Linked DNA regions of Homo sapiens: region 2 is linked to region 1. Evidence: fine-mapped expression QTL. A gene starts in region 1. The other region holds a variant in brackets. All regions are shown on one strand. Distances are from middle to middle. Region 1 holds the start of BMPER (BMP binding endothelial regulator). Region 2 overlaps BMPER (BMP binding endothelial regulator).

Region 1 (5,378 bases):
ACTGTGAAGGCAGATCTGTGTGCTTTTCAGTGCAGGCATTCTTTTTTCTTTTTGACCCTGGAATATCTCCGTTTTGTGTAGACAGAGACCAGTTGTCAGCTGATAGACTATCACTTGAGGGGTGATGGCAGCAGTAGATGCATGGGAAAACATCTTGATAAGGCCTTGGAGAAAAGGCTGCTCTTTCGGAAGCAGGGCCCATTTGCCAAGAAGGCAGCAAGGGAAATCGCTGGTGGCAGAGGCTTATAACAAACAGGAAGAAGAGACAGGTTTGCCAAAGGCTTCTGTGCATTTTTCCCCTTCGCAAACTTTCAGACAGATGAAAATGTTTTTAAGGTGGTTTTTGGGTTTGCACCTACAGGGAGAGTTCCAGTGCATTCCAAAGCACCATGCTGCACATTATGGAAATGCCACACACAGCTAGATTCTATCATAAAGAAATTTGTCATGCAAATTCTGAGGATGTTTGGCTGGTGTCAGGGAGGGAAGGCATATCAAAGTAACTCAGGCACACCCTTCAAATGTCTTGCAATTTCATAGCATGCATTTATCCAAATTTATGGCTAAGGCAACAAAAGGTCTCCCAGCTTCCTTATTCTTCAGCTTTCCATAATTAAATTATGATAAACAACTTTATCTAAAAGCCTCATCCAGGGACAATCTTTTTAGATAGAGGAGATAGTGGTTCCAACTGATTGTACTTATCTGCAGCAATAAAGGTTTCTATTTATTTAATTTTTAATTTTAATTTTATTTATTTTTTAATGAGTCCCTGGGAAGTAAGGCTGGATTTAGAGATTTTTCTCTTTTTGCATATTATCTTTATGATTAGTAAATACATAAACACACTGGTTTCCGAGAAGCTGCCTGGCCATGGCTTTATTTGGGTGGGGGGAGGGAGGGAAGGAATCACACATCAGCCTTCTCTTTCAATTTAAATTTTACGGTAAGAATCTATTTTGGGAGGGAAATGGAGCATGCTAAGCTAATGACAGTTTTCCCTTCTCTTATTTTTCCCACGTCACAGCAACGTGCTCGCATCAGCTCCTCGGTGTGTCGCGATGTTGGCAATGTTGCACTAATTAAGTGAAGTCTCCAAATCACTCGAAAAAACGAATAAACAGTCAACGAGGCAGGGAAGGGTTAAGGTGAAGCTAGATTAAACCTGTCAGCAAACAGACTCATTTATTTTCAAAGCTGTAGTTTCCACAATGGAAACAACCCACTTTGCCTGGAGACCCTTAGGTCCGTTCCGTGGGGACCCGGTTTCAACTCTTGGACAGAGGAAGTCGGTAGTCCACCGTGAGCTCAAGGACAGCTAGCTGATCGTCAGGTCCCAACACTTGCCAAGCGTCCCTCACTCCCACCTCGCGCCTTCGTACTTTGGTTACAAAAATCATCTCTCTGCGATTGCACCCCTTTTGAGTAGAGGGTGCCACTGCGTGGGGAGGAGGCGGCGATTCAGCAGGGGGATCACAGGAGCTGACTCCCCGACACCCAGTGCTGCAGAGGCGAGAGGGCGCAGCCGGGCTGAGAGAGCGACGGAGCTCCGAGCTGCAGAGGCCGCCGCGCGGCGGCCCCCGCCAGAGATGAGCGGTGGGGCGGGGGTTCCTCCCTCTTTTCGGGTGAATGAATGATTAGTCAAACACCACCTCCCCGCCCCGGTCCGCCCGAGATTGGAAGGGAGGAGTCTCGGAGCGACTGTTCATTTTTTAAGGACGAAAGGCGTTTGCCTCGGTACGTTTTTAAATCGACCTTGTGTGTGTTTCAACTTCGGTCATCCCTAGTGTCAGGACGCGCAGACAGCTAAGCACAGAACACATCTCTAAGGCCACTTGCCCCTCTGTCCGCTCAGCCCCCTGAGTTCGCTGTCGCGCCCCCGCCAGAGGGAAGCAAAGCAGGGCATGAAAAGTTGCGGGGGCCCTACTGCCCCGGGTGTGTCGCTCCTTCCCAAAGGTGGGGCACCCGGGAGCGAGCAGGGTGGTGGGGCGCCCCTGCGTCCCGTTTGCTGCTCCCTCGCTGGATTGGGGCACCCGGGCCTGAGCGCTAGTGCTGCGGCATCCCCGGGGCTCCCCCAAGAAAGGGAGGAGGAGCCGCGCTCGCCCGGACAGTGGAGACGCGCCTTCTCGGCTCTGGTCCGCGCCCTGGGGCCCTGGCCTCCCTGGAGGGGCTGGGGAACTGGAAGCTGGGCCGAGAGAGTTCCCGCTGCAGCTATCGCGCAGTCCCTCCTGCGCCCGGGCGCCCCCAGCGGGTTCCGGGAGGCGCCCGGTGAGCCCACGTCTGTTGCGGCGGAGCGAGCGCGCTCCGGGAGGGCCGAGAGCCGGCGGGGCTGGCAGGAGGTGAGGAGTGCGGGAGTGGAGGACGCTGCGGCAGCGACAGCGACAGCCCCCGAAACAGTAGCGGCAGCCCGGGCGGCGGCTGAGCGGCAGTGCGCAGTCGGCAGCGCCGCAGCTCCTCTCAGTCTATCTCCGGCTGCCGCAACACCCCTTCCTCCTGGCCCCCTCTCCGGCGCTGAGGGGCTGACTGCTAAGCCACTGCAAGCAACTCCCTCAGGAAAAAAAAAAAAAAAGCCGCATCGGAGGAGCCTGGCCGCAGGACCCCTCCTCCCCGGGCGCCCCCACACCTTGGTCTCTCCCCCCGCCCTCCCTCACACCCCCCCGCCCCCCAGCTCTCGGGCGCCCGCCTCCCTCCTTCGCGGACGGTCTCCCGACACGCCGGCTGAGAGCCCTTTTCGACTGTGAGCTGCGGCAGCTGAGCAGAGGCGGCGGCGCGGGACCTGCAGTCGCCAGGGATTCCCTCCAGGTGACGATGCTCTGGTTCTCCGGCGTCGGGGCTCTGGCTGAGCGTTACTGCCGCCGCTCGCCTGGGATTACGTGCTGCGTCTTGCTGCTACTCAATTGCTCGGGGGTCCCCATGTCTCTGGCTTCCTCCTTCTTGACAGGTAGGGGAGGGGGCGGGAGGGACCGGCCCTCCGGGACGCCGGTTTGGTACCTGGGAAAGGTGGCGCTGGCTTGCCCCGGGGATGGGAGGGTGGGGAGCGCGCACCTTGGCGCTTGCCCTGCGCTGGTCGATGGGGATGAAGCGAAGCCCCGGGAGGGCTGGGAAGGCTGGTGAAGAGGTTGCGGGCTGAGAGGCTGTTGCCTTCAATGTAGTAATAATAGACATTCTTCTATTTGAATTTGAGAAATTATTTTATTTATTTTTAATGCTTTCCTCAACTTTTATTTTAATCTTTCCCTCTGTAGAACTCAGGAAAAAAATTTGTGCAGTTTTCCGCACATCTTCCTTTCTCATCTTTGGGGTTGCAATACATCCACTGTGCTAGGAGTGCTTTTTAAAGCACTGGCTCTCAAGACCTTGAATTTAAAGAAACTATCATTTAAAAAGGGCACTAATAGCCGGATATAATAATTATATGTTTTCAGGCAGGTGAAGACCTCAGCTGCTATTCTGAAGGACATACTTTACTGACACCTGGTGCAGAAAAGAAAATATGGAGTCAATTTCTAAGAGAAGGGAAAAGGGGATTGCGTTTCAAAAAGTGATTTAAACCTAAGACAATGCGAGACAGATTCATAGAAAGGCCTGTTTATTGACTCAGTTCTGAGTTTTGGTCAATTTAAAATCTGCCCCAATTTGAGGGTTTTTTTAAATTTTATTTTTTATTTTTTTCTTTGCGTATGGGGCTGTGTGCTTAGTTGAAATATCTTCATAAAGGAGGAGTGTTATTAAAAATCCAGTGAAATACTTGGAATTGTGCTTAGACCATCTGAGAACAGATAATTTATCCCTATATCATAGTCTTTTCTTTTTTGAACCTGTTTAAATAAAATTATTGAAAATGGAGTTGGGGGCAGAGGTTTTGCTTTGGTGAATTTAATAATTTAAACCACATTAAGAATTCTGAAGTTTGGGTAGAGGTTTCAAAAAGGATTAGTGTAAAAATTTTAAATGTTGAAATCATGCTGCTAAGCTAACTTTAAATGAAACATTTTTCCCCCCTGAATTTCAGGTTCTGTTGCAAAATGTGAAAATGAAGGTGAAGTCCTCCAGATTCCATTTATCACAGACAACCCTTGCATAATGTGTGTCTGCTTGGTAAGTGTGGAGATCAGGTAATATGAACTCAACTGCTCTCTCTGATAAGGTGAATCCATTAAATGTGATAATATAACCAGATCTTACAAATTGTCTTTATCATTACAAAATTGCACATAACTGTACATAGTTTGTGAGTTGAATCCAGTTAATTTCTGAGTTTTATGGACTTTGGCAATTTCCATTTCATCCAGCTGGAAATTCTTATCTTTGACATCATCCTTATAGACGTAAATTTCAGATAGGCTTTGTATGACGTCTCGGTGAAATGACAGTTTGTAATGTCTGTTTCCAGTAATGATTACTACAACCAAATTCTTGGGACAACAAAACTTTCTGCGTTGGTTCTGTCATTTAAGCTCAGTGGGAAAATGATGAGATAAGATTTAAGTATGAAGGTCAGGAATAAGGTATGCGACAAAGGGAAAGAGAGGTGACAGCCACAAAAAACAAACATAAGGACAAGATGTAATTCTGGATTTCTTTCTCGGGTTTCTTTGCCTGTTATACCCTAAACCCTCAAATACTGTCTTTATTTCTGATTTGGAAGCATGAGTCGGAAAGGACAATTCCATCCTTAATAGAGAATGACACTTGGCTGTCAGCTGCTTAGTTAACACTATCAGTGGTTAGAAGACTCAAAAAATAATTTGTTTCCATTTATTTTAGTTTAGTAGTTAATGATAAGTCTAATAAGTAACCACTTGGGGGAGATTAAGTAATGTGAATAAGAATTTCTGAGATGAAATATAGACCTACAAGGTAAACATTTTTGCTTAGGAGTGTTTTACATGCCAATCACTTTTGGCAAAATTTGGTTAGAAACTACACATTATAAAACCTTGTTGGAAATACATTAAGGCAGTCAAATGCAAAGCCCCAGAATGATAGAGGACTACTTGTTGCTAGATCAGCATGCTGTGTGGCGCTGGAGAAGGAATTCATTTCGGTTTAGGCAAAAGCCAAGCTATCTGAGTTTATACTACATAAATTTTTTCATGACAAGAGTTGAGGTCAATGTTTTGAAGTGATAAATGGGTGAAGGTAAATGGCTGTATCAAACAATTATCAGGTTCGGAAGACTAAGGAAATCAACAGAAACAAGTAAAAACGCACTGCGTTTGCTGACACAATAAATATTGCTGCCTAATAAAACAGAGCTGAGAGAGGGTGTATTATGATTGCATATTTATGGGTTGCTGTGTTCATTGATGATCTTTTAGTAAATAATTTGTTGAAAAGAAGCTTTCAGTTTAAATTTTGACTCAGTTGTAGATTTA
Region 2 (5,378 bases), 160 kb after region 1:
GAGGAAACTTGAAGTGCATCTATAGAACATTCTTATGGGCCTCTCCTTACAACAGTCAGCAGTAATGGTAATTTACAATTTTGTAGGTAAGAAATAATAGAGGAGGCACAATGCCGTTGTCCTCCCCACAGTAAGACAGTTTTTGTAGGGTTGGCCTGAAGGAGCAATGATGATTCTCTCAAAATAGGAGAACAAAAGTCCTCTTAAAATCAGACCTGAGGGAAGTATGAAAAGCATTGCTGTCTTTTCATAACATGGAACAGGCTCTCTTTCTCCCTTTCCAACTGAAAAGAATTAGATTTGATTTTGATGATTTATTTAAAACAAAATATTTGAAGTGGGCTACACAAACTTCATAAAGCTTTCTTGCAAATGCTGTTTCTTGCCAAAGTGTGAGACTCTAGCCTTAAGCCAATCTGGACTTGCCTCGGCTGGGCACACATGAGCACAGGGTAGGTGCCAGGGAGGCCACTTGCCTGTTTTGTGTGTAGCATTTTGTTTATGCAAAATGTTGTTTTACTGTGTGTTGGCAAATAGCAGGTGGAATCTTGACCTAACCACCCAACAGAGACCTGAATCAGATAAATTCTTTGCTGGCAGGATATCTGTTTTCTAACATGGAAATAATACATAGGGTCAAAGTTGTCACTAATAAGAAAGGTGCATGTGAGATGTGTATAGAGAAAGAAAGGGAGAGAGGGATGGAGGGAGGGGCAGAGAGAGAGAGAGACTGAGATTGACAGATTGAGTATATGAGAAAATTAATCTCTCAGCCATCCACAAAAGCAGAGACAAAGGCAGCCCAGACGTGCATGCCCAGTCCCTGGTGGTTCATTAAGCTGTACCTGTAGCTACATCAGACCTAACCATCAGAATCCCAGCTTAAAACACAAGTTCACGATTACATAACACTGAGGCTGATTGAATATGCCGAGCACAGATGTGCATTTAATTGAAATAACCTCAACTACATGTCCCAGAAGTAACAGGAAATATCAAATTTCAGCAGCTCATGGTGAGAGGAGGCTCACAGTTGCCAGGTGACTTTTTAAACCCCCCAGGGTTGGTTTCCAGCTGTGTGCAGGCTGCATTGGTGTGCCTGCTCTCCTAGGAGCCCTGCCTGCTGCCTACACCCACCACAGCCACTCGTTTTGGCACATCTGATGTAAGCCCTCTGGGATGCGTACAGGTAGCTCCAATTAACAGAATGGCTGTAGGAGGGGGAGACTATAATAACAATTTCATTTATTTCCCTAGAAAAAAAACCATAATGAAACAGCAACCTAGGGGCCCATTTTATGAGAAATCTCCACTGACAGAGGTTCTGCAAATTAGTGATTCTGTGTTTGAGCAAGGTTTCTGGCCTCCAGGGCTGTAAGCAACTCCAGGTCCCTTAACACCGAGAGTCTGTCCTTAACTCAGGAAAGCAAGGAAATTCGAAACCAGAGCTCAAGATGCTTGTAGAATAAGAATTTGTGGTGTTGACTTTAGCCCTGCCAAGGAGGTGTTAACCTAAGTGGCCACTGAAGTTTCTGCTCCAGCATCTGGAGTCGGGCTTGACACTGTTCCTCAGGCCCAAACAGCAGACAGGGGTGGCAAATAAAACCCACTGTACCACACATGGTGGCTGGGAGATCCCACACCGGTAGAAGCCACGCTGGAAGGAGCATGAGGAAATCAGTCTGTCTTCTGTTTTATATGCTGTTCTGCTCTAAGGGATACTGTTACTTTAATTTTTCTTGCTGTAAATTAGTACAGAGTTGAAGGAGACTGAAGTTATTAGGAATCACCTTTTCTCTACCACCTATTGTCAATTCCCACAGGGTGTTAGTACTCAGTAAGTCCTTGATAAGTGATTATTTGATGAATTAACAATCACCACCATCATCATCCACAGATAACAATAATAGCAATAATAACAACAGTAGTACCCACCAGCAGCAGCAGCAGCTAATATTTATTTGGCATCTGCCGTCTCTAAACACTATCTTGGGCAGTCTCATTTGGTTTCATTTGATTATCACAGCCGTCTTGTGGTCAAATAGTGCTGTTAGCTCCATTTTACAGTTGAGGGAACTGAGGCTTAGAGGTTAAGAAGGACGCTCAAGATAGTTGTGGAGCCTGAATTCCAACCAGGTAGCTGGCCCGAAAGCTTGGTCTGGAATTACTTCCCTTAGCTTCCTTGTCATTTTGTACAGTTTGATAACCAGTTGAAGTTAAGAAGGGGAAGAGAAGGTCTGGAGGGCTTTACAACTTGTAAGCATTGGAGACTGGCGAAGGACCTTAAGAGGAATTTCCAATTAACAGTGTTGTCCCTCCAACCACACCTGGTTGGAAATGGAGACTCAAGTCCCCAGGCTTTCTTCTACTGTGGCATCTCCGTCTTTCTGCTCAAGTACAGAGAAGTGGTGGTTGGTATGCTCTGAGCTCACTG[A/ACAAAT]CAAACTGGCTTGGTTTTCCATTTTGTTTGTTTTCCATGTCTACTAGTTTTTCCAGTTTTTTTTTCTCGTGGTAATTCAAGTTACTGGGGTCAAGTGAAGATCTCCCCAAATTTTCTTTTTAAGTACACATAGTTTTGAACTTGAAATAACTCTGTATATAATTTCCACCAGGAATGGGTAAGAGCAGAGTTGCCCTGCCTTTGGAGCTCATCACCATTTTAGCATCAGGAAATTTGTAAGTGAAGGGACCTTAATATGAGGTTAGACCTCTCACTTCACAGGTGAGGAAACTGAGACTCACAGCAGTACTAACTGAATGAGCTGGGATGAGGACTTGCATATTTTTAAAAATCTCCTAATCCAGTATTCATTCTACAGGCCTCCCTGGATTTTTGCTTGGGAAAGCTATTTTTAATATAGGTGTAGCATTATGACATAGTTCAATTAAAAGCTAGTTTCTTGCTTAATTTCAAAAGAATGCATTTTATATAGAAAAAGATATGCGAATTCATTATTAGACATCTGGTACAATGTAGCCAAGGCTGCCATGTTGAATCTCAGGAAAATTGCAAGTATCCAGTTTTGACTGAGGGTATGTGTGACGGAAACTCCTTGGTAATGATACACCTAAAATACAGCTAAACGACAAAACAAATGAACAATAGAAACCCCAAGCTGTGAAACTTAAAAAATACACTTGGTGGGAAGTACTGTATAACTAATTATACATTACTATATGCAGAGCTGAGGCAGATTTATTCCTCTTTGGAGGTCACATCTCCTATGAGCAAAATAAAAGCAACAAAAATTGCTACTTCTGCTGCCTCTGCAATTGCTCCTATAACTAACAGCGACTTATTGAACATTAGTCCATATCAGTCAGGTATTGTGATAAATGCTCTCCATTTTGCCATTTAATCCTTACCATGTTCCTATGAATTAGAAGCTGTCATTAGCCTGAGGGTGAAAGAAATTAAATAGTTTGTGGTCAGCTAATACACTGGCCTACGAGACTCCAAAGCCCAAACTTTTATGCACTATTCTCTGTTCTCTATTGACTACATTTGTATTCATTTTGGAGGTTCACTTCCAAACAGATATGAGGTTTGCCAGTTACTTTCTTTTATACATGACTAGTGGCTTCTACTTACAAGCAGTTGTATTTACTTACTTTTTAAAAATGTACCTACATTTATGAGGTCACTTTAACCTCTTCAGTCTCTTAGGTTACAATACTTCAGTTGTAACCTTTGCTGGGAGTATGGAGAGATGACTCATTAGCTGTGCTTTGCATGGCCCTTTGATGTGAAATTCATATTCATGAATGCTGTCATTCTTTCTTCTTATCTCTGTTCCCTTCCGCGTTAGTACTCTCTGCCCTCATTCATTGCTACACCCCTCTTCTCTGACTTTCCATATCCTTCTTTAGTGCAAGTATCTGTTGTTTTACTTTTTGCTTTTTCATCTTGTAAACCCACAGCTCCACTTTCATGGTGCCCTTTCTGTACTTTCTCACTCTGGTTTCAGATTTGTTTAAGCTTTGAGGTCCTTAACATATCACTTCTTAACAAGATGCTAATGTAGTAGATCTCAGCTTCTTGGAGAACATGTTCTTTCAAAGTATTGCATTTGAATTTTGTTAATAGTTTCTACCTTTGATTCCCCCAATTATTTGAGCTGGGAGTTGGATGGAGGGGCTAATGGCTGTTTCCAATCCCTGTTTGTTGACTGAATTCTGGCACCCCCATATCCCAGCTGCACAAGATTTGAGCCTTAATGTTATTTCTCATACTTTTGGCATTTCTCCCCCATGTTGCTAATCAATCATCAGGTTTGCTTGATTGTCTTTTTGTGATGTTTTTCAAATAAATACTTTCCTTGCCATTCCCATGGCAGCCGGACACTCATCCTATTGCTTGCATGTAATCTCCATCTCTCTTCTCCTTCACCCCTTTTTGCACACCCCTGTCAGAACCCAAACTTAGCTTTCACAGAAACCTACACCAGCTTCCTTCCCTTGCGGTTTCCCAGAGTTTGTTTTATAAAACACTAGTGCTGAGGGATAATGATGAGTAATATTTTCAAAACAAGGTTCTGTGATTAAATACACTCAGGAAATGCTGGGTCAAGTAAACTTAAATGTGTTTTCTTACTGCAGAATTCTCAGAGCCCTTAATATGCTGACGTGCATGGTGAAAGAGGTTGGAGTATAGAGTGCCTCCCAAACTAATTTGAGCGGCAGAGCTTTTTTTTTTTTTTTTTTTTAATTTCTACTTATTTTGGCAGAGCAACAGGCAGGATTGATGTTTCACAGGAAACACATCAAGAAATGCTGGTTGTTTGGAATACATTTAAACTTCTCAGGCTGGCAGTAAATCTCAGGCCAATTTATTTAGACAACTTGGGTGTCTTGTATCTCCCGAAGCAGCTCTGCACTCTGGTGCGATTGGCCTCCTGCTCTTCTTGTATAAGCTGCCCTCTTATCTATGTCCATGACTTTATTTACATTCTTCTTTTGGCCTAGAAGGCTTACTTCATTCTAGCCCCAAATCTGTATTTTATGTCTTTTATAGACTACCTCAATTTACATTGTCTTTTCAACAAATCTATACTTTCTAAGTTCATTACAGTCTTACTCAACCCCATTTTAGCCAGCACTAGATAACTATTTGCTAGACTTGCATAACATTTATAATAAGCAAATGAATAATGACTACTCTGAGTATCTCTTATGTTCTAGGCAGCTTTGCAATGCTATCTTTATAATCACCCGGCAAGGTAATTGTTCTTAGAGTCATGTTATAGGCAAACAAATTGAGGTTATGTAGGTAGTTTGTGCATGATTTTATAAGCCTTAAGTGGCAAAATCAGGATTCAAACACAAGACTCTTCAAAGCAATAATATGCTCAATGACTGCCAAGCTCCAAGGAGGCTTTAAAGCT

Evidence for each region. PIP is the estimated chance that this variant, and not a neighbour inherited with it, causes the effect. A credible set is the group of variants that fine-mapping cannot tell apart.
Region 2: its variant is the best candidate, but not a certain one, in a credible set for the expression of BMPER in cerebellar hemisphere (GTEx, PIP 0.79).

Annotation. Positions count from the first base shown.
Region 1 is chr7:33,902,806-33,908,183 of GRCh38, forward strand. BMPER (BMP binding endothelial regulator) reads left to right here and starts at 2,734. Exons shown (of 15, transcript NM_001365308.1): 1 at 2,734-2,941; 2 at 4,013-4,098. The coding sequence starts at 2,809.
Region 2 is chr7:34,066,137-34,071,514 of GRCh38, forward strand. The region is part of intron 11 of BMPER (BMP binding endothelial regulator); the gene reads left to right. Among named protein-coding and RNA genes, the nearest start is that of BMPER, 160 kb to the left of the region's middle. The variant A/ACAAAT (reference allele first, on the strand shown) is at 2,435.